3 separate regions of the Homo sapiens genome follow, and regions 2 and 3 are each linked to region 1. The links come from fine-mapping of genetic effects on gene expression. A gene starts in region 1. Each other region holds a variant in brackets. All regions are shown on one strand. Distances are from middle to middle. Region 1 holds the start of APMAP (adipocyte plasma membrane associated protein). Region 2 has its middle 170 kb from the start of LINC02967. Region 3 overlaps ACSS1 (acyl-CoA synthetase short chain family member 1).

Evidence for each region.
Region 2: its variant is fine-mapped to the expression of APMAP in esophagus mucosa (GTEx, PIP above 0.99).
Region 3: its variant is fine-mapped to the expression of APMAP in whole blood (TOPMed, PIP above 0.99).

The regions. Positions count from the first base shown.
Region 1 is chr20:24,988,754-24,996,116 of GRCh38, forward strand. APMAP (adipocyte plasma membrane associated protein) reads right to left here and starts at 3,998. Exons shown (of 9, transcript NM_020531.3): 1 at 3,841-3,998. The coding sequence starts at 3,935. RefSeq lists enhancers at 3,551-4,051, 3,610-3,669, 3,690-3,769, 3,900-4,139, 4,052-4,552 and 1 more.
Region 2 is chr20:24,742,658-24,750,020 of GRCh38, forward strand. No RefSeq gene overlaps it. Among named protein-coding and RNA genes, the nearest start is that of LINC02967, 170 kb to the right of the region's middle. RefSeq lists enhancers at 1-640, 4,370-4,871, 4,872-5,371. The variant G/A (reference allele first, on the strand shown) is at 3,619.
Region 3 is chr20:25,041,903-25,049,265 of GRCh38, forward strand. ACSS1 (acyl-CoA synthetase short chain family member 1) reads right to left here. Exons shown (of 14, transcript NM_032501.4): 2 at 6,183-6,279. Among named protein-coding and RNA genes, the nearest start is that of ACSS1, 13 kb to the right of the region's middle. RefSeq lists a silencer at 1,124-1,183 and an enhancer at 1,334-1,483. The variant C/T (reference allele first, on the strand shown) is at 3,626.

The sequences.
Region 1 (7,363 bases):
CTCAACCTCACCTGATCAGCATCCAGCCTCCACTGGAAAGTTCTGTGGTCACGTATTAGAAATACTAGCTTAAATTTAAACAAAACTCCTTGAGCTGCACTGTCCAATAGAACTTTCTGCAACGATGGAAATACAATAGCTACTAGCCATGTGTGGTTCCTGAGCACTTGAAATGGAGTTAGCTTGTTATATAAATGAGGTAAGCACAGCTCCTGGACCCCTGCTCTGGGTGCCACACTTATTTTAGCCCAAGGTCCATTAACTTTTCGGCAGGCCCTCATCAGTGTTGCTTCCTGTAAACTCACAGTTAACCACAATTCTTCTGTCTTTTCTCGGTGTCTGCCTCCCTCTTACTCTTTTTTTAACTTAAATAAAGAACACTGTATCGATCCCTATCCATTTTCACTGACAAAGCATTGCAGGTTCCCAACCTGTGCTGACACATCCAGGAACGCTGGCAACTTAGTTCCCAGGCGCAGTTTGAGAAATCAGTTTGTTTGCCCCAATCTCTCGGAAGAGCCTGGAGGGATGCCCATCTCCATGAGGACATCTGCACCCTGAAATTGCCTACACTCTCTGAAGGCAAGAGCACAACCACAGTGATGCAACAGGATTTGACAACTGCTGTTGGCTGGGCCATGATTTACACAATCTTCTGTAGATTCACCAGCCAATTTGGCAGATTTTGAAGGGTATCCTCTAACTCTGCACACAGGACATTAGGGCCTTGGGTCCTGAACTGAAGTCCCAACAAGCAGACTCCAAGAGATCAAAATTCACCTGTGATTGTTGTGGAAAACCTGATAGCCCCAAATCCATGGGGTACCAGCAACCTCATGTGTCAAGGTGATCCCTGGAACCTGAGAAAATCAGATAGCATCAACCCATCTTTTTTAGTGACAGCATCTTGAATTTGTTCATTTTTCACAATCCTTTAAACTGGGGCTCCTAGATTCATCAATTTATCCTTGAAAAAAATTAAGAAATCAAGAAACAAGTTTAAAAAGCCATCTGAAAATACACACCTGGGGCAAAGCTGAGACAAACACTCCAGCTGCCTTACTCCTCATGAATTCGTGAATGCCCAATCTGTTTCTCCATACTTCCTCCCTTACTCTTCAGTCTCCAAGAGGAAAAAGGAAAATGGACCTAGCAGACTTTTAATTAAACTAAAATCCTTCAGAAGTTTATTGAAAAAGGAGAATTATACAGAATTTAATGTATTGAAACATATTAAATCCTCAATGTATTTATTCTGCATCCCTAAACAGTCACATATGGACATTAAACAGTTCTCTTCCTAGATAGAACTGTGTTTCAAACAGAAAGGAATAGTTCCACAGAGTACAATTAAGTTTCTAAAGCATTTCGGGAAATCAATGTCAAATAATAATTATAAGCTTGCACCGGTATGTTAAAGTACTTAGCTCATCTATGTTCCACACTGAATAAAAGAATTTACCAACCAAATTCTCCATTATATTTCAAATACAGTAATTCAAGAGCTTTGGCATAAAGTCTTATTTCCAAAGCATAATTTTAAAAATACACTTCTCAGTCATTGTCCAGCTGCCAGTTCTATCCTTCTTCATTCATTTTCATTTCTCTTTTGACTCTATTCTCTGTAACTTCATATAAACCACCTCACACACATAGACCTCAATGATCTCATCAGCAAAACAAAGCAAACACCCACCTTTTGTGCCAAGAGTTGGGAGACCACCCAACGTATTACTAGGGGTCCCTACCACTGCTAAAATCTATGTCTTAGTTCTGTCAGTTTAGTAATATGTCTTTCAAGGCTTCCTTTATTCTATTTAGCACATCTAAAGTGCTAAAGTTTATTCTAATAGTTTCGTGTTTTTACTTCTGAATTTAGATTCCTTTACTTCGCCCACTATACACAGGCTTTCCTGGCTTATGTTGAACCCTCGACTTTTAAGGTAATCAAGAATACTATTACATGAACTACTAGAAATGACCACAAAATAAATGAAAAATATAGGAGAAATGCAGAAGAAAAATAAGAAAAACAGCTACCATGTTACAATAATAATTGCGGAAAGGAAGGGTGGTGACAAGACCTCACTTTGAAAGAGATCATTACAGATATACAGAAAAGGGATAAACAAACAAGAAGGACAAACACAGGGAAACAGGAACAATGTTCATGGACAGGGAAGTCAAGGAAATAAGTAAACATAAATGTAAAAGGCACACTGGAAAAGATCAGGCAGTAAAAGATGACTTTAGAATCAGATTTACTTACTCATTAAGGAAGAAATCCCCACAGAGAACCTGAAAAAAACAATTAAGTCTGCCTGCTTGCCCTGGGGCCAGAAGTGTGAGCCAGCCAACTTGAGAGTTGGGACTACCTAACCGGTGCCCTCAGGGGCTGTAGGCCCTGGTTTTCAACACACTGCACCTAATGACAAACTCAGGCCACTGCTCTTCCATTTCTCAGGTAAAAATGCCTTGTTTTCAAGATTTCTGTAGGAAAGTGTTGCCAATTCTTGCATGTCCATTCTAAATGGCTCCTCAATCATCAACAGATGATTAATTCACAATATTCACAGTAAGTAGGGTGATCAGATTGTCCCAGTTTGCCCAGGTTTAGCACTGAAAGTTCTACATCCTTGGAAACCCCAGTCCAGGGCAACGCAGGATGGTTGGTCAGGATATATGGGAGCATCTTCCCGATCTTTTCACTGGCCCAAGGAGTCAACTATCACCGCAAAGTCTTCTCTCTAAATTGCCTCTCTAGAGCCTAAATGCTCCTTCCTGCCATCGCTCTCCTTCAAATGTGTTCCTCTTATCATCAGTCAATAAACTCAGTCTACAGGGGCAAAAACTGCCTCTCATTCATATGTACCCCACCACCTCTTGGCACACTACTGATGAACAAATATTTCCAGTATTTCTATCAAATATAAGTCAATCAGTCCCACAACTTCAAGCTTGGTCTATGGGGCCTCTTGATTCTCCCTGAAACTTAAAAGTTATGAAATTCAGGACACAGAATTGAAAAGTGAATTTTAAGTATCTTATATTGAAATCTATGCTTACGAATCATGATTCAGTTTTTAGCTAACAAAACACAGCATTCTTATATTCTGAAAGATGGGAGAGGAGGCAAAGGGCAAAACCTGATATTTCTTAGGTGTCAACAACTACAGTTTCCTATGTTTCTCCATCCCTATCAGGAAAAACTGCCAGGCTGAATTCTCACAAAAATTGCCTACAATGTCACTACTGTTCTCCACTCTTTCCAAGAACCGCGGTGAGGACTGGTCACGCAGCGTGAGGGGGGCAGGTGCAGAAGAGCAAGTGTAGAAGCCATCTCTTCGCCGGATAACGAGGCAGGACCCCAGCATCTCGTGGGACCTCCTCCCTTCGGGAAATTGCGAGCGGGGAACCAGGAACACGCAGGGCCCCGGCCAAGTAGCTGTGCTCAGGGGGATCATTTAAGCCAAAGGAAGGACAGCGCGAGGGGAGCGAGGGAAAGGCGAGGAAGCAACCGCTATGCAGGGTGGGGCAGGAGTGAGGGAGGGAAGGCAAAGGAGCGGCGCGAGGCGGTCTCGGGTCCGGAGAGCCGAGGACAACGCGGCGACTGGGCGCAGGGTGCACCCGAACCTGAAAGACCTGGCAGGTACATCCGCCTTGTCGGAGCCTGCTTCCTCGGAAAAATGAGTTTTTCTTGGGGATGAAACGAGAGGACTCTGACAACGCGCTCGGCACCGCATCCCCAGGTTACTGTTACTGCCGTCGCCGCTGTCCAAGAGGGTCGCCCTCCACTCCTAGCGGCCCGGCTCCAGCGCCCAGTCTGGGAGTCCGCCCTACCTGCCGTCCTTAGCCTCCGGGGCCTGGCCATCATCGTCTGTGACGACCTGCGGCCGCAGGGGCCGGCGCTGTCGCAGCCCGTCCGCCTCGCTCATGGTACGGGCGCCAGCCTCACCCGCAGAAACCACCTCACACTGAGCGGCGCCGGCTCAGACTCCAGGCCCGCCCTCCCCCGTACGCGGAAATGACGTTGCGCCCAGGGACCATTCCGCAGCGTTCTCCCCGCCCCTTCCGGCCTCATGGGCGGGAGGTCCCCGGCGCGTCGTTGCTCGGCGCTCTGAGGCTAATTCTGACCGCCCGGAAGTGGGGCTCGGAACCCGCTCAGAGATAGCACCGGGAGCTGCCGGGGTCCCCGCCTGTCTCGGACTCCGGGGCCCAGAACGCGAGTGGTTCAACCTCGGGCTCGTCTAGCCCAGTGCCTGCGCATGCCGCCTTCGTCTCACGTTTCTGAGGACGGGGATGCTCATGACGCACTTGGGAATTGCTAGCACGAGATGTTGGCCACTTTTATCGTTGGAGAGGATAGCGCTGTTTATTCAGTGTCAGCGACCCTGCTCTTACAGGCAGCGTCAAAAATAATGCATTCACACCCTTGGAACGAAGTCACCTCTGCCTGAAAATTACATCCTTCCCCGACTCAGCCGGTTAAGGGGAAAACTTGGGCTAGAAAATGTTTCCCTCTGGTTAAGGCCAGATGTTGAGTATTAAATCTTTTTGTGACGATTACAACAGACATTTGATAAAGTTTATTAAGTTTTGATAAAGTTTATTAAGTTTTGATAAAGTTTATTAAGGATTACCCTTAAGTAAAGTCCAGGTAGAAGTAGAAATTATCACTAACAAAGTTTAAGAAAGCATAGAGAGGCATTGTTCTTTCAACAGTATTGCAGGAAACCAGAAATGTTCCCAGGTGCTGGGAGACGATGGTGGGCAAATCACAGACAAGGCCCCTCCTTATAGAAATTAAACTAGTGGGAAAGATGACTTTAATCAGATCATCATCATAAAATAGACGTAAAATTATCAAACGTAATAATTGCTTCAAAAGGGAAGAGCTGAATCTTGTGAGAGCATTTGAGATTCAAAGAGGAATCGAATCTGGAGGAAGTGACAGGCAGAAGAAATCAAAGCCCGTTACCAGTGGCACGAGGAATTATCTCTGGAAAAGCCATGTTCAAAATGCAGTGTTAAGAAATAATTTCCTCTTGGAGGCTTTTACCTTTTTAAATGCTAGATGGCACTAGAATTCCATGTGAATGCTTTTTATTTATTCATTCAAAGAGCGGAAGAACCAGCTTGAGGGAAGTGGAGAGCTGTGCAAATCCAGTTCTCCAGAGATCCCAGGTAATAATTCAGGCCTCGACAACATTTTACTTCATTCTGTGTCATTGAGAATAGCCAATACAGCTATTAAATCAGGGATAGTGTTAACAAAGTACTGTATGATCTCACGCCTTCCTGCCTGTCTGGACTATCCCTCTTGCTCCCCACCCCCCATTTCAGACATTCAGGATGGCTTAACATGTCTAATCTCATGCCTGGCTGCCTTTGTCCTTGAGGTTCCTTCTTCCTGTGATACACTCTCCTTCACCTCCACTTGGCCAATTATTTTTATCATTCAGGACCCACTTCAAGTATCCTTGCTGAAAATTCTTCTCCCAGTTTCCCAAGCAGAACATCTTCCTCTTTGTCTTCAAGGCACTTTAAACATGTCCCAGCCATAACATTGAACTCACTGCATTGGAGCTATTTGTGTTCCATGCCCAGTGTTAAAGCCCACGCACTGCAAACACCCAGGGACACATTCAGAAGAAAAATAATGGCAGTAAGTTGGGTTTACTGAACTTGCTGCAGCAAAGAAATGCACCAGAGGACCGGTGAGGTTCCTCAAAATGGGGGAGTCATGGGAGACTCCTTGTGGGGTTTGGGGGCTGGAGTTAGTCCATCGATAGTCTTGCCCAGGGTTGGTCAGAATCCGTTAACAACGGGAGTCACTGGAGGAACCGTGGCCTTAGCTCTGGGACATGTAAGTCCATTCGGAGTTATCAGGAGGTCAGCTCGTGGGCTTATCATGAAGCACGTAGGTAGTTGGTGTTACAGTGGTCTGAGCTAGATCATTTGTGCTGCATAGCACGGGTTCAGTACAGTTTTTCTGTTTTCAAGTCACGGTGAAGCACGCTTTGCTTGTTGTATTTGTTTCAGTTATCAGTTCTCCCACCCCACCTTCCAACCAGACCGACTTTGTTTCTCATCGTGCTGATGCCAGTTGTTGGCAGAGGAATGGGACCACTATGATTAATTTGATCAGGTTTCTCAGCACCACTGATATTTTGGGCCAGATAATTCTGTTAGGAGGCGGAGGGGGGCCTCTCCTGTGCGCTGGTGTTTCAGCAGCATCCCTGGGCTTCCCCCACTAGATGGCAGTAGCATCCCACCTAGTCGTGATGATAAAAAATGTTGCCAGACATTGACAGATAGCCCCTGGAGGACAAAACAGCCCTTGGTTGAGAAGCGCTGAGTGAGACCAACCAAAACCCACACCCAACCCTGGCACTGGGGATGAGGCTCACTTCCATCGGAACACTGGCCCACGTGGAGGGCATTTATCTCAACAAAAGCAGGCTCTGCCAGCATGGAAGAAGAAGCGCATGATGCTGGCAGGGAGCCCACAGTATGCCTCGCAGCTCAAACCAGAAGCAAACCCTACTTCTAGTCCAGTGCTTTTTCCCAGTCCCATGCTGTTTCAACTCCTTCCACAGAGATCTCCTGAAAGCCTGCCAGATGCCAAGTGCGGTGACAAAACAAGGGTGAAATACAGTGATCCAGCCTGCACAGGCGTTATCATCTTGGAGGGGAGAGAGGAAGCGTAACGAACGACACTATAAAGCACTGCTGCAGAAGAGCTGCAGGGTACCTTGGGGCTGCAAGGAGGAACAAGTGCTATTAGATGGGACTGACCAGAGATGTCTTCTTGGAGGAAGGGGCTTTGCACCAGGACTTAGATAAATAAGATTATAATGGCGGGGGGAGGGGGAGGTTGGGGGATAGAGAAGGACAAGAAACAGGCTAAGAGGGATGAGTGGGGTGCCCAGGGATTGTTAAACAAGGGGGTGATGATCAGGGATGGACATCAGGGTTACTGAGTGATCAGAAAGAATAGCCACAAATATATACGCCTGTTATGTACCCACAAAAACAAAAAATAAAAATAAATATTTTTAGCAAAGAAAGAATAGTCTGAAAAGGGCAAAGCAGAGCAGGAAGTAGCTGAACCCCTTCTTCCCCACAAGTCCAGGAAAGCACAGAAGGCGCTGCCAACTCGGAAAAGGGCTGCAAGGGAAGTTGTTCTGTCGTGGTGGGATGTCGTGGTGGGAAGCTCCAGTTTTAATTCAGGTGGGACAGTGGAGACAGTAAACTTAGGCAATGTACACTAGTTTGTTCACCGCAGGAAAAGCACCTTAGAGACCATGCAGCTACCAGAAACAGACATCCACCAAAGCTGGCGGAGAATGAGGGAGGGATG
Region 2 (7,363 bases), 250 kb before region 1:
AAAAGTCACTCAGGCCTGAGAGCTGGGGATGGGTAGGCAGCCTGTGGCAAGACCTGCCCAGGGCTCTATCTCCAGCTGCCTGCCCCACCCATGCCCCCAGCCCATCAGCTCACACAGACACACAGCACAGCGTGGAGAGTGTTCCTAGAAGCAGCCACCTTGGAGGAGGGGTCCCCTGTTCCTGAGAACTCCAAGGCATTCCGCTCCCACCCTTCAAAGGGCACAGGTGGCTGCTTGTGGACCTGATGGTGCTCACACCCTTCACAGGGCACAGGTGGCTCCTTGTAGACCTGATGGCGCTTGGTATCCTGTCCTGAAACCATGGCCTCTCATTCATCTATAACTGGGTTACAGTCTATCAGATTTAAAAAAAAAAACTCAAAATAATAACCACCTATTACAATGGCCTTGGCTCCACCGCACCCACCAGTTCAGCATCGCAGGGTGGGCTGTGCATGCCATGGGCTGCTGGAGACCAGGAGGCCACCTGAAAGGCAGTGTGACCATCAGGCTGCCTCCACCACTGGGACCCTGGCATTGGACCACACTCTCACAGTGGGATGAAGTGTTTCTGCATGTTTCTCTGTCCTCCATCCATCCAGATCTCAGCGGGACCTCCTGCCCATCCTCCATGTGATTCAGAGTCCTCGAATGCACTCCATGCAGCAGTGAGGTGGTTCTTCCATGAACAGTTTTGTGCCCGCCACAGGCCAGGCACCATACCAGGTACTGGGACACCACCCCCCCACCACCACCTCTATGCGCTGAAGACCCTAATACCTTTAAAGCTGTTTGCTGCACATTACAATCACCCACAGAGCTTTTAAACTCCCCTAGTCCAGATTACTTCCATTCCAATTAAATTAGAATTGGGGGCAGGGCAGTTGAGGATTTTTAAAGCTCCCTGGGTGATTCCAAAGTGCAGCCAGGATTGCGAATCAACCCTTTAACATATCACTTTTATTTTAATTTCTATTTACTTGCAAAACAGTGCCTTTTCAAACTCGAATGTGCCTCTACACTCCTGGGAGTCTCACTCCAGGACAGGTTCTGGCTCAGCAGGTCTGGAGCAAGCCTGGGATTCTGTGTGGACCACAAGCTCCCAGGTGATCCTGATGCTTGCTTTGAGCCATGCAGCTTTGAACTCATTACCTCATTTGGTTTTAATGCCAACTCTCCCAGGCAGCAAGCCACAAGACCCGGAGTTGAGGCCACATGGTGGGTATTTTGAATCTTTGATACTCCACAGAGAAGCAGGTCTAAATCCCTGTGGATAAAGGAGGGCGTCTGTGAATAACAAGGGAGCAAGTGTGTCTTGGGAACTGGGCACGGACAGGGTCCCTCACCCAGGAGACACCTGTTTGCCTGCCTGCGTCCTCTAGGAGGCTTTGACTCTGTGGGGCCTCACAGAACACTGAGGATCTGCTCTCTGAGACCGGGAAGACTCGATATCCTCTTTCCCCTCCTCCTGGGCTGTGGGATCTGTGTACATCTCCCACACTGCTATCTCATGAAGAGTGAGTTCCTTGAGATCCCAATAGTAGCACTTTGGGAGGCCGAGGCGAGTGGATCATGAGGTCAGGAGATCGAGACCATTCCGGCTAACACGGTGGAACCCTGTCTCTATTAAAAAATACAAAAAATTAGCCAGGCGCGGTGGCGGGTGCCTGTAGTCCCAGCTACTCGGGAGGCTAAGGCAGGAGAATGGCGTGAACCCGGGAGGCGGAGCTTGCAATGAGCCGAGATCACGCCACTGCAATCCAGTCTGGGTGACAGAGTGAGACTCCGTCTCAGAAAAAAAGAAAAAAGAAAAAAAGAAATGCTCAGAACATGGTTCATGCTCAAACAAGTTATGGAAGGCATCCATTTCCATATGTTAAGCAAGTTTCTTCACTACAGGACTTCTCAGGGCCTTTAAATTGCTAAACCGCAAGACGATGATGCCATGTACAACTTTTCCAGACTTTTTCAGGCCATTCTTACTAATATTTCCTCCAAGAGTCTTGCCCAGGGTACAGGTTGGGAACACTGAAGTTGGCCACAGTTAAGCATTTGATGAATCCCTGTGGGTTGCAATCCTTGAGCGCCATGGGGCTGTGTGAGCTCCAAGGCAGCCTAGGACCACACCAGCGCAGGAGATCATTTATCTGGGGAAATCTCAGGTGCGACCTTAGTCTAGGCTGCCAGGTTCTCAGACCTTAAGCACCAGCTCTGGCCAGGAGGAAAGCAGGCAGCATTCGCACAGCACTTCCTAGATTAGAGAAAATTATAGATTGCCTTGAATTTGCATACTGGGACCCACCCAGAAACCCTGGGTTTCAGTCATAGCCAGTGCCAATGCCTGAATATAGCAAACTTCTGCTGCAATCAGGGCCCAGGTGCAGGGGAATTAGAATCAAAGGAATCTAATATTCCATATGGTGGGTTTTAGCCAAAAGTACCTTTGTTTCTTTTCTGTTTTCTCACTGATTTTCTCTGAAGTTGCTTTATCTTGGTCATTTGACCAGTGTTAACGCATTGCCCGAAGACCCCCAGAAACATTGACATTGTCTGAAAACTTGTTGGAAATGCAGGATGTCAGACCCCTCCCTGGACTCAGGAAGTCAGCATCTCTGGGGGTGAGGACTGCAGCCTCTGAACACGCCCTCCAGCAGACTCTGTGGGCACTGAAGCTGAAAAATTGCTGTTTTAAACCAAAGTGCCCGCTATTCCAGCATCTGCAAAGGCCCCAGCGTGGCCACCTTTGTTTCTTCATTGCTTTTATTTTTCTTTGCAAGCTTATTTTGCTTTATCTTTCTAACCATTTGCCTCTCATTATGAAGAACTTGGTGCCAGCCAAGCGCATGCCAGGCCCTGTGGGTGGGATACACAGGACGTCCGGAGATCCTGAAGAGCCTGTCCAGGTTTTCAAAGCCTCTTAGCAAGTCCTATTCAGTGCATATTCCTCCTGGTTTTCACCCTGCTCTTGGCCAAGGAAACAACTGGTTTATGCCTCAAATCCCCAGAAAGGGCTACTTTTACACGTGTTCAGTCCCCTTTAGAGCTGGCTCTGAAACCTGGTGGCGAATGTGCCTTTTCTTTGGGGCAGTGGCACCACCTGGCTGTACGTTCCAATCCCCTGGGGGATGCATGCAGAGACTCACTCCAGGACCTCCAGGGCAGGGACCTGGCTGTCAATATCGTTTAAGGCTCCCGGTGATTCTATTGTGCACCAGGCTTGAGACCCTGGCATGAGATTAAAGACTAAGGAAAACAAAACCAAGAGTTTTACAGGAGAGCTGGCAAAACTGCTGACGTGGGTCACAGCTCTGAGAAACATGGAACTGAAGCAAAGAAGACCGGTCCCACAGTCGGATGGGAATGGAAACCCTCCAGCTCCTCCTAGATGGTGTTTGGCAACAGAGAGGCAGCCTGCAGTCCTACCGTGCCTACGTGGTCCTTTACGGGAAGGTCAGGGTTCACCAGCCATTCTTGGGGGCCAGGTGGTGTCTACCTCCAGTGCACTAGCCACAGTCATCGGGCCCAAGGCTGGGGTGGAGACTGAGGAGGCCACTCCCAGCCACAGTCCTACGTGTGATCCTTCAGGAGGGGGCCCCAGGCACTGACAAGCCTTTGCCC[G/A]GCAGGCCCAACAGGGAAAGCTGCCTTCCCCCCCCCCAGACCTGTGCCAAGCCCATGCCAGGAAGTCTCTGCAGGGAGTCAAGGACTCAGCCACGATCCTGTAGGCATCTGCAGTCCTCACCCAGGCACCTCCCTCCAGGCCTCCTCACCGGGGGCGTTGGCTAAGGCGTATTCCACAGTCTGACTCAGCGCTTTTCCCATGCCAGCCCGTGCCACGCCCCAGCCTCCCAGGTTCCTTTTGTTCAGGGCTCCTGGGCAGTGAGGATTCCCCAACCTGCATTGCAGACCCTGGCCCAGGGCCAAACCGCAGGAGGGCGAGGAAACTCCGCCTTGCTCCTTCTCCCACCTGCACAGTCCCGGGGAGGTTGTGCTCCAGAGCAGGGCTCTGCAGGCCATGGCCACGGCTCTGAACACCTCACCGTTGAACTCCGGGTCCAAGCTCTCGGACTCAACTCCCAACGTAGCCACAGCTAAGATTCCCTTTCTTTTTAACAAATTAGCATTAAAATGAACTGAAATTTGTTGATCCTGATTTAAGTTTCTTTTTAATAAGGTCGTGGATAAATTTCACAGATGGAGATGTGAGGGCAACCACACATGTATGTGGCGAGGGCCAGAAAACAGCTGCGGTGATAAATAAATGGTGGGTGCAAGCAAGAATCAAATAAATGGTGTGGAAAAGACCAGCCCTCTTTCTCTCATCTTTCTAGTCAATGATTTTAGTCCTCAGCTGCCTCCCTAGGATCTGTGTCTTACAAGAGCTCCGTTCTTTCCTGAAAACTGTATTTCTCTAAAACACTCCCAGAGCCCTTATCACAGCCAAGGCCTCTTTTCCAGTCAGTGGCCTGAGAGTAAGGCAGTGCCCTTGTCAGAAGCTGTTGATGCTGGTAAGAAGCAGTGACCTCTGACCCTTCTGGATGCTGCTGACTCCTGCTGTCACTTTTAATTGCAGAGAAAGTAAAACAAGAGATTTCTACTTTGTGGACTGTGCTACTTCAGCAGTCCCTCTTCAGGCAGCATGCACATATGCCCACACTGAGGTAAGGAACATGAGCCCAGAGGTAAGGAATATGACCAACCTGATCCCCTCAGCCATCACAGGTGGTGGGAAAAGACTTCAGGTGATTCACTCAAAGGCACAAACCAGGGTCCGGGCAGAGCTGGACTTGAACACACGGCTCCTATCTCTCAGGCTGTGTTCGTTGCTCTGCACGCACTCCCGCTGCGTGTTTACTCCTTGGCAATGTGTTGAGCACCTGCCATGAACCAGCTACTGCTGCTGTGGATGCAGTGACAACGGGACAGGCAGAGTCCCTGCTGCAGAGGGTCTGTGCTTTAGTGCAGCAGGCAGCTCTGCAACGTCAGGCACTCCAGCTGTTAAGGGCAGGTGCTACAAAGGGACCCACATCCGGGGGTGGTGAGTGTCCCTTCTCTGGCTCACTCGGGTACAAGAAAGGGAAATTCTGGGAAAAAGTGGCAGCAGTGACAGAGTGCTTACCCTCCCTAAACCTCCCCCTAAAAATAGATGGCATGCTATGGGCTGAATGGCCTCCCTGCAACATTCATATGTTTAAGCCCTAATTCCCAGTACCTCAGAATGGGCTCTGTATTTGGAAATAGAGCCTTTAAAGTGGTGATTGACTTAATGTGGGGTCATTAGAGTGGGTCCTAATCCACCTTGTTGATGTCCTCATAAGAAGAGGAACTTTGGGCACAGAGAGATACTCAGATGTGCATGCACAGAGGGAAGGCCACGGGAGGTGCAGCAAGCCAAGGAGAGAGTCCTCATGAGAAACCAGCCCTGCCCACACCTGGACCTGGGACTTGAGCCTCCAGAACTGTGACACAATAGATTTCTGTTGCTTTTGCTACCAGGCCTGTGTCATGTTGCTATGGAAGCCTTAATGCCCAGAACAACTTGACAGTGAAATCCAAAACTCGTGGACAGCAACCCAACATTCAAGTGGGTGGGACAAACACCCACGAGCCCCCAACCAGATAGTGTGGGAGCAGCAGAAGGAAACAGGAGACAACCCTCGCACCTGGAAACAGAGCCTCCAAAAGGCAGAGGGCATGGGGGTGATTTGGAAACAGCAGTTGAAGCCTAGCATTTGTCTAATGCTTCAGCAAGTACAAGTGTGAGCCTGCTGGGCCGTGGATCCTTCAAACTGGCCTGTCTGGGCTCCCAGCCAGGACAGAGCCCACACTGAGGAGAGATTGGGTGAGAAAAATCAAAATTGAGCAAGATCCCCATATCAAACCTGAAGTGGGGAGGGGAACCCACCCAGGACACCTCAGAGGGCAGACCACCCTGTTCTTAATACTACAAGGAAAGTGCGGAAGAGAGAGCTCTGCAGAGTTAAAAATCCTCCCCTGCAATCAGTCTCCTTCTAAAATATCAGGAAAACCATTTCACATAAAAATTGAGCAACAGAAGTGCATTGAGGTTCAATACGACACAAAATACAAAATTAACACAAGAAAAAGAGACGAAGCAGCAGAAAACCTTTCCTACTAACAATCAAAACTTGCCTGACAAATGGGACCACAAAAATCAGAGCTATCATCTATTATTTCAATATAAACTAAAAGACATTAGGAACACCACATGACATGAACACTCTTAAATGACTTTGGGAGAATTCATAAATAAGGTAACAAAACTCTAGAGAATTTGAAATAAAAGAAAATTATTGCAGAGGTAATGATTAAAATGAAAGGAACATAACACCAAATACACACAAGGGATAATGCCATAGAAAAATAGAAGGCAAAAAGAGGAAATTTGTAAAAACTGAAAAACACGAGTCCAGAGATGAAAAGACTGAGAGAAAGTGGCAAATATGAAAGATAGACAAAGGAAATCTAATATAAAGAAATTAGGAGCCTGAGAAAGACAATCAAAGCAGGAGAAACGATTATCAACCCAGAACAAGCAATGCCAAAACATATCCTAGTAAAATTATTAAACTGTAAAGAAAAGAAAAAAAATCTTTTGAGCATTCAGGCAAAAAGAGCAAATGACTTGTAACGAGAAGAAAGCAAATTATCATCAAACTTTTCAACAGCAACACTGTGTGCCAGAAAATAAATAAATAAATAAATAAATAAATAAATAAATGCATTAGAATACTCAAGGAAAGAAAATGTTAGCCAAGAATTTCATATCCAGCAAAACTGACTTTAATGATAAAGGCCATGTATAGACTATTATCAGTATGTAACAACTCAGCAAAGATCATTCCCGTGAACATTTCCTGAGGAATCTACTAAACACTAAGCCTCAGACGAGCGAGCTGATGAGAGAGACACCCATTCAGGGACTGGTGGGCACTGAAGATAGAGTCGCCCCTGGAACCCAGCCTGGGTGATGGCCCGTGGGAGGGTCTGGAGCTCAGGCAGCATAGATCCCACACAATCAAAAAAGTGGGGGAGGGAGGGAGGGAGGAGTGGTGGTATTGTTATTCTTATTTCATTGACTTTAATTTGGGATAAAATAAATAATTATGTTATATTCTATCAATCACTGTAGGCTTGAGAATCAGGGTTCTTGTTGTGGAAGAAAGAAGATACAGATGGAATAGAAGAGGGTTGCCCCTTTTCTAAAACCTTGTAAATTCTAAATTTGTATAGAGAATAAAACTCATTAGGTATTTTACCTTCAAAGTAGATAGTTACATAGGTAGTCAGACAGTCAGACAGAGAGAGAGATACAGATAGATAGATAGACAGATAGATAGATGGA
Region 3 (7,363 bases), 53 kb after region 1:
CTGCATGAGGAGGAAGGACGCCAGACTCCATTCGAGTGGCCTGGGATCCAAGAAGGTACAGGTGGGATCCTCCTGCCCTAACAGTGGGTTGTGGAGCCCAGGTGTCAGCCCAGTCAGGTTCCACAACCCACCCGCTGGCCTAGAATTGCCTGTGGTCGCCCCAGAGAATTCTCAGAAAGGTCCTGTCCCCAACAAAGAGGTCTCTGTGGACATAAACTCCCTCAGTGTGGGTCACTGTGCTGCAGTCTGAAGATGGGGCCTCTCTAAACTACGACGTGCCAGGACCTCGGCACCCAGGAGAACGCAAGGGAGCACAGGCAGCGTGCGTAGGAAGACCCCAAATATTCCAGTGGCAGCAGCCGCAGCCTGGGGCTGGAGGAAAGGTGGATGCTGCTTCAAAAACAGCCCACCCCGAGTAACATGGGATCCTATCAGATTCTGGCTGTAGCGTGCAGATTCCAGACCAAGGGTCCCAGCCCAAGTCTCAGAGGCTGCCCGGGCACCCTCCTCTCAGGTGGGGCAGCTAGGCCGGGACTCCACGCCTCACCCCACCATGGGAGCCCCACAGACCACACCGAGTTTGCCTTCCACGACAGCCGCTGTGTCACACACGGGTCAACGAGGCTGTTCCCCCACAGCCTCCCGTGAGTTAGGATCCTCCCCCAGCTGCCCTGATGTTTTAATAAGGGAGTGTGCTCACTAGGGTAATTAACTTGGGAGGTGAGCAGAAGAGCAAGGGGCAAGGGTCACCCACTAGGGACATGGGGAGGGGGCACACTTTAGCTGATGTACGTGTCCTCCCAGGCAAAGTCCCGCTGAGTACCGTCACCCCTGAAATCACCACCCACCCACTCTCGGCCCCAGCAGCCATGGGGCCACCCATGTCCTGCCCTTCTTCAAATCTGAAACCCTTTGCTGGCCTTCCTTCACCTGGCCCTGACCTGCAGCTGAAACGGACCCTCATCCTCCAGACACCCCTCTGGTTTTCATCCCACATGCCCCTCTCCACGCCCAGCAGCCCAGTGGAGGAGAAGTGTGACTGCATTTTGCAAATGAGAAAACCAAGGGTGGGAGAGGTGGAGTGACAGGCTCTAGGTCCACAGCCAGGGTCAGGCTGGGCAGAGCACAGCCTCCTGCCTCCACCAGGTCCTGGGCCCTGGCCCCTCCCCCTGCCAGGGACAGGGCAGGCAGGGCACAGCCTCCCGCCTCCACCACTTCCCAGACCCTGGCTCCTCCCCGTGCCATGTCCTCACCAGTCCCCCACTCCTGCCTTCGCCACACTTCCCCTTCCTCTGCCTCTCAAAACTCAACCCTCCACAAAGCCTTCTCCACCTAAGTGTCTGTGACAGGACTTCCTGCTTCCTGCTCCCCCCAAGGGACCAGCCACTTCTGTGACCTCCCTAAATGGCTGTGTTCGAAGACATCCAGGGCTGACAACAGAAACAAGCCTCTCAGAGAGGTGGCCCCAGGCTCAGTCCCCACCCCACCACAGCTGGAGTGTGTGGCAGCTCCCTCTGCCTAGGGTGAACGGCCAGGCCCTGTCATGCACAGCCCTGCAGGCCTCCGCATCAGGTGCCAGGCCTCACAGATTCGCAGTAAAGCCCCATGCCCAGCCCAGCACAGCACACCCAGGGAGAAAACCTCCCTCAGCTTCCTGGGACTCTGAGGTAGGTGGGGTTGGGGGAGGCCTGACATCCCCTCTGCTTCTCTGGTCAGGGGTTTCTCACTGTGCACGACCCCACCCAATAAAAAGGCCAGGAAGGAACAGCCACAGAAATCACCCCCACCAGCAGGAGTTTCCACGGGGGAACAGCTCCCAGAGTGGCACACGATGCCTGTGCTTCCTCACAGACTCGGGGCCCAGCTCTGCTCCTCCGTGCTTCATGCACGCCTGCCAGGGCTGGAATACTGGGGCCATTGAATCCCTCCTTTTACAGATGAGGACACCAAAGCCCAGAGGGATGGGTCCAAGGCCATAGGACAAGCCGGAGCTAAAACTTGGTCCTCTGGCTTAAGATGCTCTCATTTAAGTTCAAGTTTAAGTTCACACCCCCCTACAGAGACCCTCAGAGAAGAGGTTCACTGATTTGGAGGCTCTGCAGGCACCCCCAGCCTGGCACCCACAGTCCACTCTCTCCTCTGTGTGGGGGCATACCCTGCTGGCTGAGAAGATCTGGACCTGCACAGGGCCTCAGGCTGCTTCCTGCACCTGGAGTCCAACCCTAGCCTGGGAATTCCTGGCCCAGACCCCAGGCTCCAGGCTCCAGGCAGGGAGAAACACACCAGCTAGGCAGCAGCCATCTCAAAGCCTCATTCATCTACCTGGGCCACCGCTTTTCCGAAAGAGAGGAACTTGCATTTCTCCACATGGCCACCCCCCAGGGTCTCTAGAACCTGCCCATGTGAACTACAGTGTGAAGGACAGTCTTCTAAAACAGGCACCGGCCAGGCGCGGTGGCTCACACCTGCAATCCCAGTACTTGGGAGGCCAAGGTGGGCAGTCACTCCAACCCAGGAGTTCCAGACCAACCTGGGCAGCATAGCGAGACTCCATCTCTACAAAAAATAAAAAGCTTAGGCTTGGTGGCACACACCAAGCTATTGGGAGGCTGAGGCAGGAGAATCACTTGAGCCCGGGAGGTCAAGGCTACAGTGAGTTGTGACAGTACCACTACACTCCAGCCTGGGTGACATTTTTGAGCCCCTGCCTCAAAAATCAATAATTAAAAATAAAATAAAATGGGCACCTGCTGGAGAAGTGCAGGTAAACAGCCAGAAAGAGCCACTGCCGTCCCAGAGTGCTGCCTGGCCCCACAGCCTTGGGGCCACTAGGCCTACAGCCTCTGGCAGGCACTGTCCTGCTCTGGGCTTTCAGCCTGCTGGCTCACCAGGGGAGAAGGGCTGCCTCAGCTGGCTCCGGGCAGAGGAAGGCTGGAAATGGAGCTGGGACCCTGGAGTCGGGTGGCAGACTGCCCTGGGAGATGGGTGCACACGTCCCAGGCTGAGCCCTTCACCTCCCAGTGGGAATTGAGGACTGCATTTGTGAAGGAGGAAGCGGGGCAAAACCGCGGCAGGGGAGGGGGTCCTCCTCTCCAAGCCCTGCAGCCAGCCAGCACGAGGTCCAACCTCGCTGCCCAGTTACAATGCTGAAAACAGCTCTAGAATCCAGTGAGTACTCAATAAATAGCAGCTACATCATTATCACGGCTATTCTTACTTGCTAGTGCGTTCGGGCTGTCATCTCCCTGTGCCTACTTTACAGTCATCTCCATTGTGATAATTACCCTGGGTGTACAGATGGGAAAGTCACACCCGGGGAGATTAGGGAGCTGCACAAGGTCACAGGCCAGCAGCAGGATGGTACTGAACTAGAACTAGAACGGGCCTCTTTCTGCTGACCCTGCACCCCAGAGGACCTGGGGAAGCAGGGATTGCAAATCCTCCACTTGCAGGGTAAAGGCCATGGGCACCCGTCCCAGGGCTGCATCTGCCTGTGCTGACCCAGCGTCACCTGTGCCTAAGGTCACGGTGGGGACCAGAGTCGGGAGGTTTCCCTTGCCAGGTCACCTGGGATTGTAACACACAGACTTCCTCACACCCTGCAAGCTTCCTGCATCGGCACCAG[C/T]GTCCCAACCTCTACCAGCCCCACGGGGTTTCTTTAAAGGGCCCAGGCTGCTAGTCTGGACATTGATCTTCCAGCTGAGGAGGCCTGCAACCATCCTAGGCACCTCGAGTGCTGTGGCACGAGGCCCATGGGCAGAAAAGCACTGTGTTCAGTGGCAGTGATGTGTCTGTCAGGAGGACAACCAGTGCCAATGTCTAGGGGCTTTCCTCAGAGAAAGGAAGAAGAAAACCTCACATCAGAAACCTAGCCTGACCAGGACAATGAGGAACTCACATCCCTCAAATACTAGCTGCAATTACAGGTAACACTTTTCACTCAAACAGTAAATAGAAATGGTCACCTGGTACTAAGCCTGGCTAAAGTCTGCAAACCATTTTAGAAGAAGTCAATTTATTTTTATTTTTATTTTTATTTTTGAGATGGAGTCTGACTCTGTCACCCAGGATGGAGTGCAGTGGCACAATCTTGGCTCACTGCAACATCCACCTCCCAGTTTCAAGCAGTTCTCCTGCTTCAGCCTCCCAAGTAGCTGGGACTACAGGCGCACATCACCACACCCAACTAATTTTTGTATTTTTAGTAGAGACGGGGTTTCACCATGTTGGCCAGGTTGGTCTCAAACTCCTGACCTCAAGCGATCCACCCACCGTCCTCAAGTGATCCTCACCATCCCAAAGTGCTGGGATTACCGGCATGAGCCACTGCGACCGGCCCCTGTTTATTTTTAGAGACAGAGTAATAAGTACTTTGCCAGGGCCATTTCAGTGTCATGGACCTGAAGCTGTCCTTAGCTTCCACAGGCTGGCTGTGGTCCTGAGAATTCTCACATGGTTTATGTTTAACCACACGTCTCCACAGGGCTCCAGCCCCGCTCACAGACCGAACCGCTACTTAGCACACACTCAGTGCTCCCACGGGCAGCGTCCAGCCGAGGGGGCGTGGCACACAACCTGCCTGCCCCAGGGTCCAGGCACACCTGAGAGACTGATGGAGAGAAACTGGCCCTTCGGGGAGTGCCATGGCTGGGCCCTCCCTGCCGGACCTCCAGGTGTCCAGTTAGCTCCTTAGCCCCCGACCCCCAACAGAGGGTTTTCATCTTTTACTGAAGAACTACTCCAGGGGCAGCAGCCTCAAGTTCCTTCTCAGAAGGGGCTTTGTTCGCAGGCAGATGGAGCTGGGCCCACCGTGGCGAGGGGCAGCTGCAGCAGCTTGGGTCTTCAGAGCCAAGCACACTCCAGTGTGCAGGGGCCACCTGGGGGGCCGCTCAGTTGTCCAGTGGGGCCCGAGGATCCAGGGCAGAAGAATGCTGCTGGCCTATGGGCCACACGGCATCTGCAACCAGGGACTAGAGATAAGAAATGCGTGCTGTATAGGCTGTGAGTCTGGCTGGTGGGGGAGACGGGTCAGCAAAGGAGCCCTGGCCGAGGCTGGTGGAGCTGTGATGGGCCTGAGGGCTCCTGGGGGCCGAGGGGAGGAACGAGCAGGACAGGGCCCACTGGGAGCCGCAGCAGATCCACTAGCATCACTCGTCTGCCTCCAAAAGTCAGCATGAGCACGGTTTTAGCAGGTTTGGTGAATTTGGTCTGTGATAAAATTGGAGTTCAAGAAACAAACAGGAAACTACAAGTGCCCCTTCGCCCCCAGGTCACCCGAGTGGCAGGGCAGTGACCGCTGCTCTCAGGCTGCCCAGTGTGGACCTGCCTGTCGGAATGCTCCTCCTCCACGTCCCCTCGCTCCTGTGTCCCAGCCACATGCACCTTCCCTCTACCTCTGGGATCCCTGCACCAGGTCTGCCCCTGTCTTCTCAGGGCTGCTCCTCTTGGCCCACAGGACCTCAGCTGGAATGTTGCCTCCTCCAAGAGGCCTTCCTGACTATTAGCTCACAGTGGCCACCCAGCCACACTCTGCCATGTGCTTGGGGATTGTCTGTTACTGCAACATACTGCAGCCCATACTGACACGAAGGCACCCAGTGAAGACTTGCTAAGTAATTGGACAAGAAGACCCTGGAGCTGCCCCCAGGAGAGTAATCACGCTCGATGATTGTGTGTGATGGGGACTTAGGAACTCACAGTTTAGGGGCACAGTGGGCCTGAGGCATCTCTGTAAGGGTAAGGTGAGCTTCAGGCAAACGGGGTTTGCATGGAGAACCAAGGTGCTGCACCAACACAGCAGCCCCTACAGGAAGCAGCTTGGGGAAGGCCAGTGCAGACCGCCCAAAGCACACAGCATCTGAAGCATGCTTGGCACATAGAATCTGCTTAAGGAATCAGAGACTAAAAAGATCAGCTTAAAAACAAAACAACTCTACTAAAGATGATTTTATTTATTGTCCCATCCTCACAAGGCGCTGAGAGTGTGGCCAGGCAGGCTAGACCGGCTTTTACTGTGTTTCATTCTGCTTGCGTTCACATTTACTTTTCCTGGATAAGAGAGCACTTGCAAAGCCAAAATGCACTCCCTGAGACTCAGACGGCCCCTCCCTGACAGCCAGACTCAGCACACAGGACTGGGCTGGGCGCCTCCCTCGCACCTTGAACATTCGAGGGCACAGTACCTGTAGGTGATCCTCACTTCCGTTCCAGGCTCATCGCGCTCCCAGATCAAAGCAACGCTCTCGGGGGACTTCCGAACATGCTGGTCCAAGCAGTTGACTGTACAAAAAGAGGGTTTGCGGATGTTACACTTGGTGCTTTTTGAGTGAGAATTCGGCCAGGTTGAGGGGTTGGAGCGGGTCTAGTTTGCTGTGGCTCTCTCTTCTTCCACTGACAGAGACCCTGTCCTCATCAGTGATGATGTTTCTACCCCCTTGCAAGGAGAAGGGTGAACAAACATGATCTCAGAGGTACAAGGTGATGTCCTGCAAATATTTTGAAGTGGTTGCTTCACACCAGTGGACCCAACCCTGGCTGCATATTGGCATCTCCTGGGCCACCCCTAGAGACCCCATCCAATGGGTCCTGGGCCTTCAAAGCCTCAAAGCCCCCATGGTTGGTTCTGATGTGCAGCCAGGGCTGGGCACTGCAGCCTAAGCTGTTGGAAAGAACACTCAGTGCAAACAGGTTGTTCCTGTTTCAGGGCTTGGCTCCTGCAGTTCCCATGTGCCCAGTGCTGACCTGCCCCCAAGGTTAAAGGTGCAAGAAGGGACGAGGACCCAACTCCCCCACGTGTTCCACGAGCACCCAGTAAACCAGCCTTGTTCCAAGAAGTGGCTCGTGATGGGGAAATGTCCTGGTTTTGCAGAAGGCTCTGCTCCCTCCCTCTCCATTACCCAAGCTCCCACACATGACCCTCCGGCAGAAACAGCTCTGTGGCACACCGTGAGACTGAGGATTAGCAGCACGGGGCCCCTCCGCTGGCAGGCTGGTCACTACTCATTAGATTCCAAAGCTGAGCCCCTTCTGGCAACCCTCAAGCCAGCTCTCCTCACTCACTGGCTTATCGGAGGGTCCCCAGGTATGCAGGGACATGAGCCCCATGAATGGTTTTGGGGGCAGCAGCACCCACCCACCTGGTCTCTCAGGGTCACCCCTGTAGCCTGTTTGTAAATTACACCTCAAAAAATGTAACAAATGTAGACAGATTCCAGGAAAAAATTACTAATACTAGTAAGAGACACAGGAAAGTTCTTTGAACTACTATTAACAGAAAAATAAAAGAGAAGACATGCCCAAAAAATAGAAGAAAATAAAAACAAGAAGACAAACTAAGAAGGGGATCAGTGGCAGACCTGAATTT